Linked DNA regions of Homo sapiens: region 1 is linked to region 2. Evidence: fine-mapped expression QTL. A gene starts in region 2. The other region holds a variant in brackets. All regions are shown on one strand. Distances are from middle to middle.

Region 1 (5,383 bases), 110 kb before region 2:
AGCCCCATATATTCTGGAGGCTGAGGCAAGAAGAGGGACTGCCACTGCACTCCAGTCTGGGCAACAGAGAGAGATCCTGTTGAAAAAAGAAGAAAAGGGACAGGGAAGGGAAGAGGAGGGAAGAGGAGGGGAGGGGAGGAGAGTGGAGGAGAGGGGAGACCCAAATGGGATAGGACGAGAAAATTAAAACTGAATGGTAATGAAAGCACTATATAGTTGACTCTTGAACAACACAGGTCTGAACTGCATGGATCCACTTACACCTAGATTTTCTTCCACCAAGAAACAGACAGCAAGACCAGTCCCTCCTCTTCCTCCTCCTCTTCCTCAGGCAATATGAAGACAATTAGAATGGAGACCTTAATGATAATCCACTTCCACTTAATGAATAGTAAATATATTTTCTCTCCTTCTTATTTTTTAAGAACATCTTTTCTCTACCTTATTGTTAAGAATACAGTATATAATACAACACACAAAATTGTGTTGACTGTTTACGTTATTGGAAAGGCTCCAGGCAACAGGAGACTGATTATTAGTAGTTACATGTGGGGGCAGTCAAGAGTTATATGTAAAATTTCAACTGTGCAGAAGGCTGGTACCCCTAACTCCCTCCTTGTTCAAGGGTCAACTGTATTTCAAATTTGTACAATCAATCAGAGGTACTTCAAGGGAAAATTAGAGCTATGAAAGCAATGTTTTAAGTGTTAAGAAATTAGAAAAAGCACAGTTATCCCAAAGAAAAAGAGCAAAACGAGATGAAATGTTACAAAATAGAGAAGATACAATAGAAATGATAAAACCAAGTTGTTTCCTTTGGGAAAAAATATATAATGGTAAATCTATAGTAAGAATAATTTTAAAAAGGCAAACGACACTAGAAATAAGAAATAAAAATCAAATGCACAAAACAAGAATATTATGAAAACCTTCATGCCAATAAATTTGTCAAATTAGATGAAATGGACAATCTCTACCAAAAATATTAATTGCTGTAACTAACTCGGGAAAAAAAAATTTAAAAATTTGAATCAACGATTTAAAAAAAACAAAAACTACCTTCCACTTCCACTCTTCTCCCAAAAAGGCTACCATCCAAGACAGTTTTAAAGTCAAGTTCTACCAGATCACCAAAAATAGACCAACAGTAATTTATCCAAGGCTTTTCTAGGTAATGGTAAAAGGGAAGCAACTTTATGAGGATAGAATACAACCCAGATAACAAAATCTGAGGAAGACAATTCGATAAAAGAAAATTAAAGGCAATATATGCAAAAGTCCTAAATAAAAATAATACAAAATGAATGCAGAATCATCACTACCAAGTTTACATTAGAAATTCAGATGGTTTAACAGTAGAAAATAATGTAGATTACAACATTAGCGGGTTAGAAAAATACATGATCCTCTTAGTTGATGCAAAAAATACATTTGATAAAATTCACCACCTACTCATGAGTAAGTCTAGAAACTAGGGGAGAAAGTCCTTAATCTGAGAAATAATATTTATTTTTAAAAATTTCAGAGTGATCATATAAACCTAAATAAAACATAAAAAGATGGTGAGGAGTTTGAGACCAGCCTGGCCAATGTGGTGAAACCCCGTCTCTACCAAAAATACAAAAATTAGCCAGGCATGGTGGCATGCATCTGTAATCCCAGCTACTTGGGAGGCTGAGGCAGGAAAATTGCTTGAACCCAGGAGGTGGAGGTTTCAGTGAGCCAAGATCATGCCACTGCACTCCAGCTTGGGTGACAGAGCAACTGTCTCCAAAAAAAAAGGAGGGGGAGGGGGGGAGGGGAGGAGAAAAAAGATGCTCAGCCTCAGTACTTTTTTTTTTTTTTTTTTTTTTTTTTTTTGAGACAAAAGTCTCACTCTGTCGCCCAGGCTGAAGTACAGTGGCGCAACCTTGGCTCACTGCAACCTCTGCCCCATGGAGTCAAGTGATTCTCCTGCCTCAGTCTCCCCAGTAGCTGGGATTATAGGCACTCACCACCACGCCCGGCTAAAATTTTTGTATTTTTGGTAAAGATGGAGTTTCATCATGTTGGTCAGGTTGGTCTCGAGCCCCTGACCTCAGGTCCGCCTGCCTCAGCCTCCCAAAGTGCTAGGATTACAGGCATGACCCACTGTGCCCGGCCAGCCTCATTAATTTTAATGGCAAAAACTGCAATTACTTTTGCACCAGCCTAATATAAGCTGTAGTACTGTTTTCATGGTTTTGAGTATCCTTCCCATGAGAGGATCATACTTGCCCACTATACTGTTATCAGCCTTGGCCATGAGACTTAATTGGCCAATGAAATGTGAGTTAAAGTAATATATACCACTTCCAAGCAGAAGATTCAAGAACTGTAGTATGGTTCTACCATGTTTTCTCTTCCCTTTATCATGAAACCAGCATATCCCAGGTAGAGGCTATTCTTTCAGTCTTGATCAGAAATAAAGATGGTGTGGAAAAGAGCCATAACAAACCCACCAAGCACATGTAACATGAGCAAGAAATAAACCATTTTTATTAAAAGTCGTGAAGATTTGCAGATTTTTTGGCTACTGCAACATAACCTAGTGAAAGCTGACAGTGATCAAACAAATGCAAGTTAAAATACTGAGAAGGTATTTCACATACATTTGATTGGTCCAAATTAATAAGTCTGGTAACAAGAATCACCGATGACAATGTGGCAAAATCAAACTTAATGGTTGCTGGTTGAAATGTAAATGGTCAATTTTATCAATTTCATTTATTATTTTGGCAATATCTGGGGAAACTGAAGAAGTAAAACTGGATTCCATCAATCTAGCAATTCCGCCACTAGGTATCTACCCTGAAGAAACTCTTACACAAGGAAACATGTCTTAAAATGTTCACTAAAGAACTATTTCTTATAGTATACAAAGAAACTGTGACTCAGGAGGGGAATAAACTAGTTTAGTCAAAGAAATACTATACAACAGTCTAAATGAATAGATTTATATATCACAAAAAGATACATGCAGGACAAGAAGGAAAAGATGAGAATGAGACTTTGGCAATGTCTTAAATGTTCTATTTTGTTAAAGATCTAAAACACTGTAATCCCAGCACTTGGGAGGCCAAGGTGGGCGGATCACGAGGTCAGGTGATCGAGACCATCCTGGCCATGGTGGAACCCCGTCTCTACTAAAAATACAAAAATTAGCTGGGTGTGGTGGCTCATGCCTGTAATCCCAGCTACACAGGACGCTGAGGCAGAAGAATCGCTTGAACCAGAAAGTC[A/G]GAGGATGCAGTGAGCCGAGATCGTGCCACTGCACTCCAGCCTGGGCCACAGAGCAAGACTCCATCTCAAAAAAAAAAAATCTAAAACACATGGCAAAATGGTAACAAATGATAGAAATTTTTGTGCTGGATACACAACTGTCTCCTCTATTATTTTTATATTTTTGTATTTTTAAAATATTTTATGATTTTTTTTAAAAAAGAGAACAAAGATAGATTTAAACCATAAAGTACGTTGGTCAGTCTTGTGGTTTAGTGATATAAAGAACTTCAGAAATAAAAGGGCATTCTAGATGATCTAAATAATTCTATATTCTACAGATGAAGAAACTGAGGTCTACAGAGGTTGAGCAAATGACTTAAGGTCACATTAACATCAAGTTGGTTCTCAAAAATCTACATCCCCTAATTTCTAGGATAGGTAGGAAAGACAAGGGACATGCAATCAAATATAATGTAATCAAGTTCAAAAAACCATTCTGTCCCTTTCTTTATGGTCTCTTACTCCTATCCCTAAGACCTCTCCTCTCTCCCTGGGATAGAAAGGGAGTCTCAGGAAAGGGCAAACAAAGTGTTAAAAAGAGCAGGAGAAGAAAAGAAAGCTTTAAGGACTGCCATGGTCTCAATGCTTCCCTCCAAAATTCACGCTGAAACCTAATCCCTATGGTGGTGGCATTAAGAGGTGGTGTCTTACGTGTTCTCACTCACAGGTGGGAATTGAACAATGAGAACACTTGGACACAGGAAGGGGAACATCACACACTGGGGCCTATCATGGGGTGCGCAGATGGGGGAGGGATAGCATTAGGAGATATACTTAATTTAAATGATGAGTTAATGGGTGCAGCACACCAACACGGCGCATGTATACATATGTAACAAACCTGCACATTGTGCACATGTACCCTAGAACTTAAAGTATTAAAAAAAAAACAAAAAAGAGGTGGCGTCTTTAGGAAATGACTTAATCACTCTGCCTTCATGACTGGGATTAGTGCCCCTGTAACTGAGGTTGAAGGGAGCTGCCTTGTCCTTCCATCAGGTGAGGACACAGCACTTGGCCTTTCCACCATGTGAAGATCCAGAAAGGAGGGGCCATCCTGGAAGCAGAGATCAAGCCCCTCACCAGACACCAAATTTTCTGGTGCCTTGATCTGGGACTTCCTAGCCTCCAGAGCTGTGGGCAATAAATTCATGTTGTTTTTAAATTACCCAGTTGACGGTATTTTGTTACAACAGCAAAAACTAAGACAACTAAGACAAGGATTTTTAATCCTCTTTTGCTAGTCCTTTTCTTTCTTTTTTTTTTTTTTTTTTTTTTTTTTTTTTGAGACGGAGTCTCGCTCTGTCGCCCAGGCTGGAGTGCAGTGGCGCAATCTCAGCTCACCACAAGCTCCGCCTCCCGGGTTCACGCCATTCTCCTGCCTCAGCCTCCCCAGTAGCTGGGAATACTGGCGCCCGCCACTACGCCTGGCTAATTTTTTTGTATTTTTAGTAGAGACAGGGTTTCACCATGTTAGCCAGGATGGTCTGGATCTCCTGACCTCGTGATCCGCCCGCCTTGGCCTCCCAAAGTGCTGGGATTACAGGCTTGAGCCACCGCACCCAGCCCTAAAACTTTGGGCAAGGAATTTAACTTCTCTAAGCCCTAAGTTCCCCGTTGTAACATGTAACACTGAAAATAGCAATGATAATATCTACCTTTATTGATTCTTAATCAATAAAACAAGATAATCCATTAAACAAGATAATCCATTCAAAGCACTTCACACAGTTCTTCAGCAAACATTAGCTATTAGTATACGTTACGTAAATAATTTGTGGAAAGCAACAAACTCTTCTGATTGACATAAAATTATAAGGTACTAGATGCGTTAAAAGATTAAAGTGACTTCTGTCAGCACCAGCGCTAATGAACTGTATGTTTTGCAAATCATAGATGTTTTTTAATTAAATGAAAGTAAATAAATTAGATGTTAAGCCAGTATCTGTCTCAGGATAAAACACTTGGGGCTAAGTTTACTGCTGAAACTTCTTTATTCTGAAATGTCAGCCTAGTGCTATCATTTTTCCTCAAGAAAAACATCTTCTAGCCAAAAGCAATATTCCAAATATTTAACACC
Region 2 (5,383 bases):
AGAGTAGAAACAGAAACAAAACAAAACCTTCAAAAATATTTAGCATTCTGCTATATAAAATATAAACCCTATATTCCTAAATGAAATGGCAAAGATACAACCTTTGTAGTTCACCAGCCACAGTAATATGAGAGGGGTGATTCAGGGCAGAACCTGATGTTAAACATAACTGTACAATATTACTAATTACAGAGAAATTGTACCAATAAATATTTTGGTTGTGGACTGCTTTGTCATCTTTGCAAGTATTTTTAGTTGAAAGCAAGTGGTTGGGTAGTACACGTGGACATGGTTCTGATTTTTAAATACCTATTTTTACATTCTGGTCACTGGTTAGGTTTTCTAAACTCAATTCCTTAGAACTAGTAATTTGGAAAGGGTAAGCCACAAGAATGTTACGTTAAGAAGCCAAGGATCTAACTAGCTCAGCAACTCAGATCAGCACAAAACTCATTTGGAAACCTCCAAGTGCTAGCATTATCTAATGATGGACCCAGGCAGTCAGTAAATCGTTAAGAACAGGTATGAAAGTGAGCAAACTGCCCTAAAGCTATCTCCTGAAAAACAGCAAGAGATATCTGAACTTCCTTCTTTTATATTTAGATGGTTATTTTTTTGGTGGCCTCTCTTCAGATTCATCCCCTAAATTAAATTTGCTTCTTTCTACTTGGACTTAAATTTCAGATTTGAAATATACACACTTAGTTGCTACAAAATGCTCCCTGGCAGTTTACATTTTTTACAAAAGTTAGGAAAAATTTTACTGAAATTATAGCTTTAACTGATTTTTTAAAATCACTTTTAATCTTTTTTAAGGATCACCATGCAACGTAGATATATGAAGAGTTCGAGGGACGTGGCTCAATTCATCCACGAATTTTCTTTCGAAGGTTTTTGCAAAAAGTGCTCTCAACTACTTGGACTAGTGGTTAAAGATTAAAGAACTGTTATGACTAAGTCTTTCTTACAGAGGGATGTTTTAAAAGGAAAGAAACCGTCCCTTCCCGTTACTCTAAATGAGCAGCCTCTTGTTCTCGGCAGTCTGTCTGCACACAAGACCACTACTGACTTCAGTGGGAATTCTGCCCAAGAAGTGAGGAAGACAGGATAGGATTAAATTAGCGCTAAATCCACACCATTGTTCCAAGCCATTACCACTTGTACAGTTCTCCAATAACCTCCAAAGAATAGATATCTGAAGTTTGATGGTGGTTCTTAAATTGAATTAAAAGAATGACCACTCGAGCTCTGACAGGTGACACAGCATAGCTCTTCAAAAGTTGTGTCAAACTCACAGCCTAACGGATGGAGCCAGTTGGCCCTTATCACAATTCAAGATTGCATTGCAATGCAGCCCCCATCAGTGGCTGCAACAGCCACCCAGTGATTTCTCACAGCAATGAGCCTGCAAAGGGAAACTGAATAGGATTAAGCACTATTCGTTCCCCCACTGAAACCTGTTCAAAGCTTGAGAATTCTAAATCCTAGCCCCTGCAGCATAGAAACTGACTCAGTTTCCCTCAACTGCTAAGTCCAAGGTGAAATCTGACAGAACACCAACTGAAATGCTAATTCTCAACAGCGTTATAAAGAGACCAGATAAATAATGTATTCCGTTGAAAAAAACAATAAAAACGTAGGGTGGGGGAGGAAATAAAGACTGAAAAACTGAGGGGAAAACCGCGAAAGTCGTTTTTTTAAAACAGCTTAAATAACAGTAACAAGAGGAACAAGACGCCTGGCACACACATGCCATTTCAGAGGCAAGAAGTTCAAGAAACTGGGGAAAGATGTGATTCAGAAAAGCGAAAATATAGCCACAGCTCCTCTAGATTCCACCTTCTCTCCCATCCACCCAGGGATCTTAAAATTAAGGGCAGCTGTGGTGTTGATGGGGCAATTCAATGAAAGACTACCCGGGTCCGTAGGGAGGGCTCCATACGCAGACCCCTCCCCAAAATAATAGACTCTAGGCAGTAGTTCTTCTCACCAAACCTCATTTTATTTATACATATATATAAAAAAAAAAACTTGACCTCAGGGGAGGTGAGCGATCTAGAGAAGCATAACTGATGTCCCACCACAGACCTCAGGCTGCTGGGGGCAGCGTCTGCGCCTGGGGATGGCGTCCCCAGACGCCGACTTCAACCCTGTCGCGCTCCTTTAGGTTCTCCTCGCCCTTCCCCGCTGCTCACCTAAAAATGCTCCCAACCCTCGGCCCCCAGGCGCAGGAGGAGAAAAAACAAGCCATCTGTGGTGAGATGGCCTGGGTGTGGGAATTGTAAGGATCGGAGCACGAAACACGCGTCCCTCTCCGCAGCTCCCAGACGGCGCAGGCGGCAGCTGGGGGCGCGGACGCGAGCCTACAGCGGGCCCGACCCGCACCGCGCGTGGGGCTGGCGCGCCGCCCTCGCCCGGCTTCCCGCAGTCCCCACGCGCGCGGCCGGCCCGCGCTTCCCCTCCTAAAACCTTCCTCCTGAAGGGCGACGCCGCGGCCGACCCCCTCCCCGCGGGGGGGATGGAGCCGGATTTTTCCCGCTGTTGCTCCACGGGGCCCGGACGCGTGACCTGAGCCCACGGCACCCCGGGGGGGACGGCGTCCTCCCCGTGCCCCCGCCTTTCCTGGCTCCGCCGGGACGCGGCCCCGGTCCCCCGGAAGAGGGAAGAGGGGGACCGCGGGGAGCAGCGAAGCCGGGATCCGGCCCGGAGCAACAGGACCCGGACCCCCGGGCAAGAATCGGGTCGGGCAGAGACCGGGAAGGAAAGGAGAGAGGGAGCCGCAGAAAATCCCAAAGCCGGGCCCCCTCTCCCCGCCCCCCATCCCGGTGGGACCGTCCCGCCACCGCTTCCTGCCCGGAATCAGCTTCCCAGCTGCAGCCAGAGGAAAAATCTGAGCCGCCCCTGCAACCCCACACTGACCAGTCGCCCGGCCCGTGCAGCCCCGCACGCCTCCTTACCCCGACGCCGTACCTCAGGAGCTCGCTCGCCGCGGGACCCGTCCCTCTTCAGTCCCAGCCGCCGGCAGCCGCGCCTGCCTCCTCCCTCCGCTAGGTTTCAAATTGAAATTCCCTGACTGGGGCCGTCAGAGGACTCTGAGGGCCGGCCCCGCCCCCTCGCGGCGGAAGCCCCTCCCGCGACCCCGCCGGACGAGCCCCCGGCGCGGAAACCCCCGCGGGCGGTCCCGCCCCCGACGCCCAGGCCCCGCCCCTGCGCGGGCGGGGGACCTTTCCCGCGGGATTCGGCAAGCGCGGCCGCGGAGACCCGGGGGTGGAGGACGTCTTTCGCCCTCAGGGCAGCCCGGATGACAGCTAATGCGCCTGGGCAAGGCGTTCTCAACTGCGATTCCCGGCCTTAAATGTCCTCTCAACTTTTAAAAGTTATTTATTCAAAGTGCATTTGCTGACTAAACCTTCACTGAGCGCCTTCCTAGAGGTAAACACTGGAGCAGAGCCTGGAGATGCAGAATAAGGAAAACTGGGTCTCCCTCAGTCTAGAGTGGAAAAAGTGCTTTCACAGGAAGGGCATTGAAAAGGAACCATTTATTCTTCCTGTGGGAGGGACAGGAGGGGTTGGGGAAACCCCGTGGAGGAAAGGCCTCCCCAGAGTAAGTAGGATTTCTCTGGGCAGAGGCCTGGGAATCTGGATTGCAGAGCATGACCACGGGTGAAGAAGAGTCTGGAAAAAACCTAGTTTGGGGCTAAATTGTGGAAAGCCACAAGCACACACACGCTACCCTTCTGGTTCTTTTCTTTTGTACAATGAGGTCAATATGTTTCAGATTCAATATATTTCATCTTTTGAAGGTTTGCACGTCAAGCTGGTGTCAAACAACGTGTCCAGCTCACTGCCTCCAGCATCTGCCTCACACGCACCTCTTATCCCTTTTACTCCTCCCACTTTTATTGAGGTCTTTAGTGATTCCACCACAGCCAAAGTCGTCTCCCTTTCTTTCCTAAACAGAACCTTTTCCAAAATTAACAATGTCAAATGAAACCTCAGTAACAATACCTTCCAGTTAACAAAATACATTCACATATTTTATCATCATTTGATCCTCACAATCACCCTATGAAAAAGGCAGGCACGTTTGAGCTCCATTACATCAAAAAGATTTGGGAAGATAAATTATTTGCCAAGGTCCTTCTAGTAAATAATACAAATAATAATAGTTAAGGTTGATTGTGTGCTTTATGTGCTAGGCATTGTTCTAAGTCCCTTACATGTATTAATTTAATCACAATCCCATATGCTAAGTATACAAGTTAAATTTTATAAGGTGTGCTAAAACAGAGCAGAAATCTGATTAGACAGCAATTCTGGTAAAGGAGACCTGGGAATTTAATGAGAAAATACTATTATTTTCTCATAATAAGAAATATGCAGCAGATTTACAACGAAACTAATGAAACAAACTTCGGGATCTCTCATTTTCACAAGCCTTGAAACTAACTTTATAATTTTGTATTTCATTTTGTGTTTTTTAAAGAGTCCCTAAAGTCATATAAGCTTTTGGGCCCATAAAACATTGAACCACCCTGATGGAGCCCCCTTTAAAATGCTAGTGCAAAATAACATAAATATAGGCATAGTTAATAAAATATAATGCCCTTCTCATAAGAAAGGATATGCTTACTATACTCTGCGTTGAAGTACATGAATCACTCCTATATGCCACCTCTTAAGAAGAAATTTTTCCCTCCAAAAGAAAATATTGATAAGCTAAATTATAACCATAAATGGGTGACCTTGAAAATGTGGGAACCAGCAAGATTTAGCCTAAAGAGATGATTAAAGGTGATAAAAAGGTTGTCAAATGTATAAAGGCTATTGTGTGAAAGAAGAATTGAACTCTGTTTTTGGACACAGCCTTACATAGCCCTGGCATTTTAATGGAATGGAACAGATTCAGTGAGGACCTAGCAGGAACTGAGGGCAGAAAAATCAAGTCCCAGAAGCTATAAGGAAGTGAAGAAAACTGATGGAAGTGGCATCATAGAGATTTAGCAAACAACAGGTGGTAGTCCAGACAACCAGGGAAGTCTAACAAGAAGAGAAGAGGGGTTTGAACAGAAAGAAGGACAAAGTCCTGGAATAGGTGACATCCAAAGACTCAGGCAGGCGGAAGCACTGTCAGGACTACCAGGCTGCAGTTCAAGGGCAGAATGTTAATCCCCAGGAAAACACTCTAGGTAGAACAAGATTGGGTCTTCCTGCTAGACACACTGTAGTAACAGGCAAAGGACTGACACAGAGAACAAGAGAAGAATATAGGTACTAGTCCTGAGAGCTACCACATCCAAATTTACCATAATAGCCTCAATCCTGGGCACTATGTGCAAGCAAAGTTAGTCTGGAAGTATGGACTAGAAATGTACCCAGGACC

Evidence for each region. PIP is the estimated chance that this variant, and not a neighbour inherited with it, causes the effect.
Region 1: its variant is the best candidate, but not a certain one, in a credible set for the expression of EPB41L2 in aorta (GTEx, PIP 0.55).

Annotation. Positions count from the first base shown.
Region 1 is chr6:130,949,482-130,954,864 of GRCh38, forward strand. All of the region lies in intron 3 of EPB41L2 (erythrocyte membrane protein band 4.1 like 2), which reads right to left. Among named protein-coding and RNA genes, the nearest start is that of EPB41L2, 110 kb to the right of the region's middle. The variant A/G (reference allele first, on the strand shown) is at 3,261.
Region 2 is chr6:131,060,185-131,065,567 of GRCh38, forward strand. It overlaps EPB41L2 (erythrocyte membrane protein band 4.1 like 2), which reads right to left and starts at 3,061. Exons shown (of 20, transcript NM_001431.4): 1 at 2,971-3,061. LOC105378004 (a long non-coding RNA gene) reads left to right here and starts at 3,219. Exons shown (of 3, transcript XR_942993.3): 1 at 3,219-3,432. RefSeq lists silencers at 2,518-2,617, 2,958-3,297.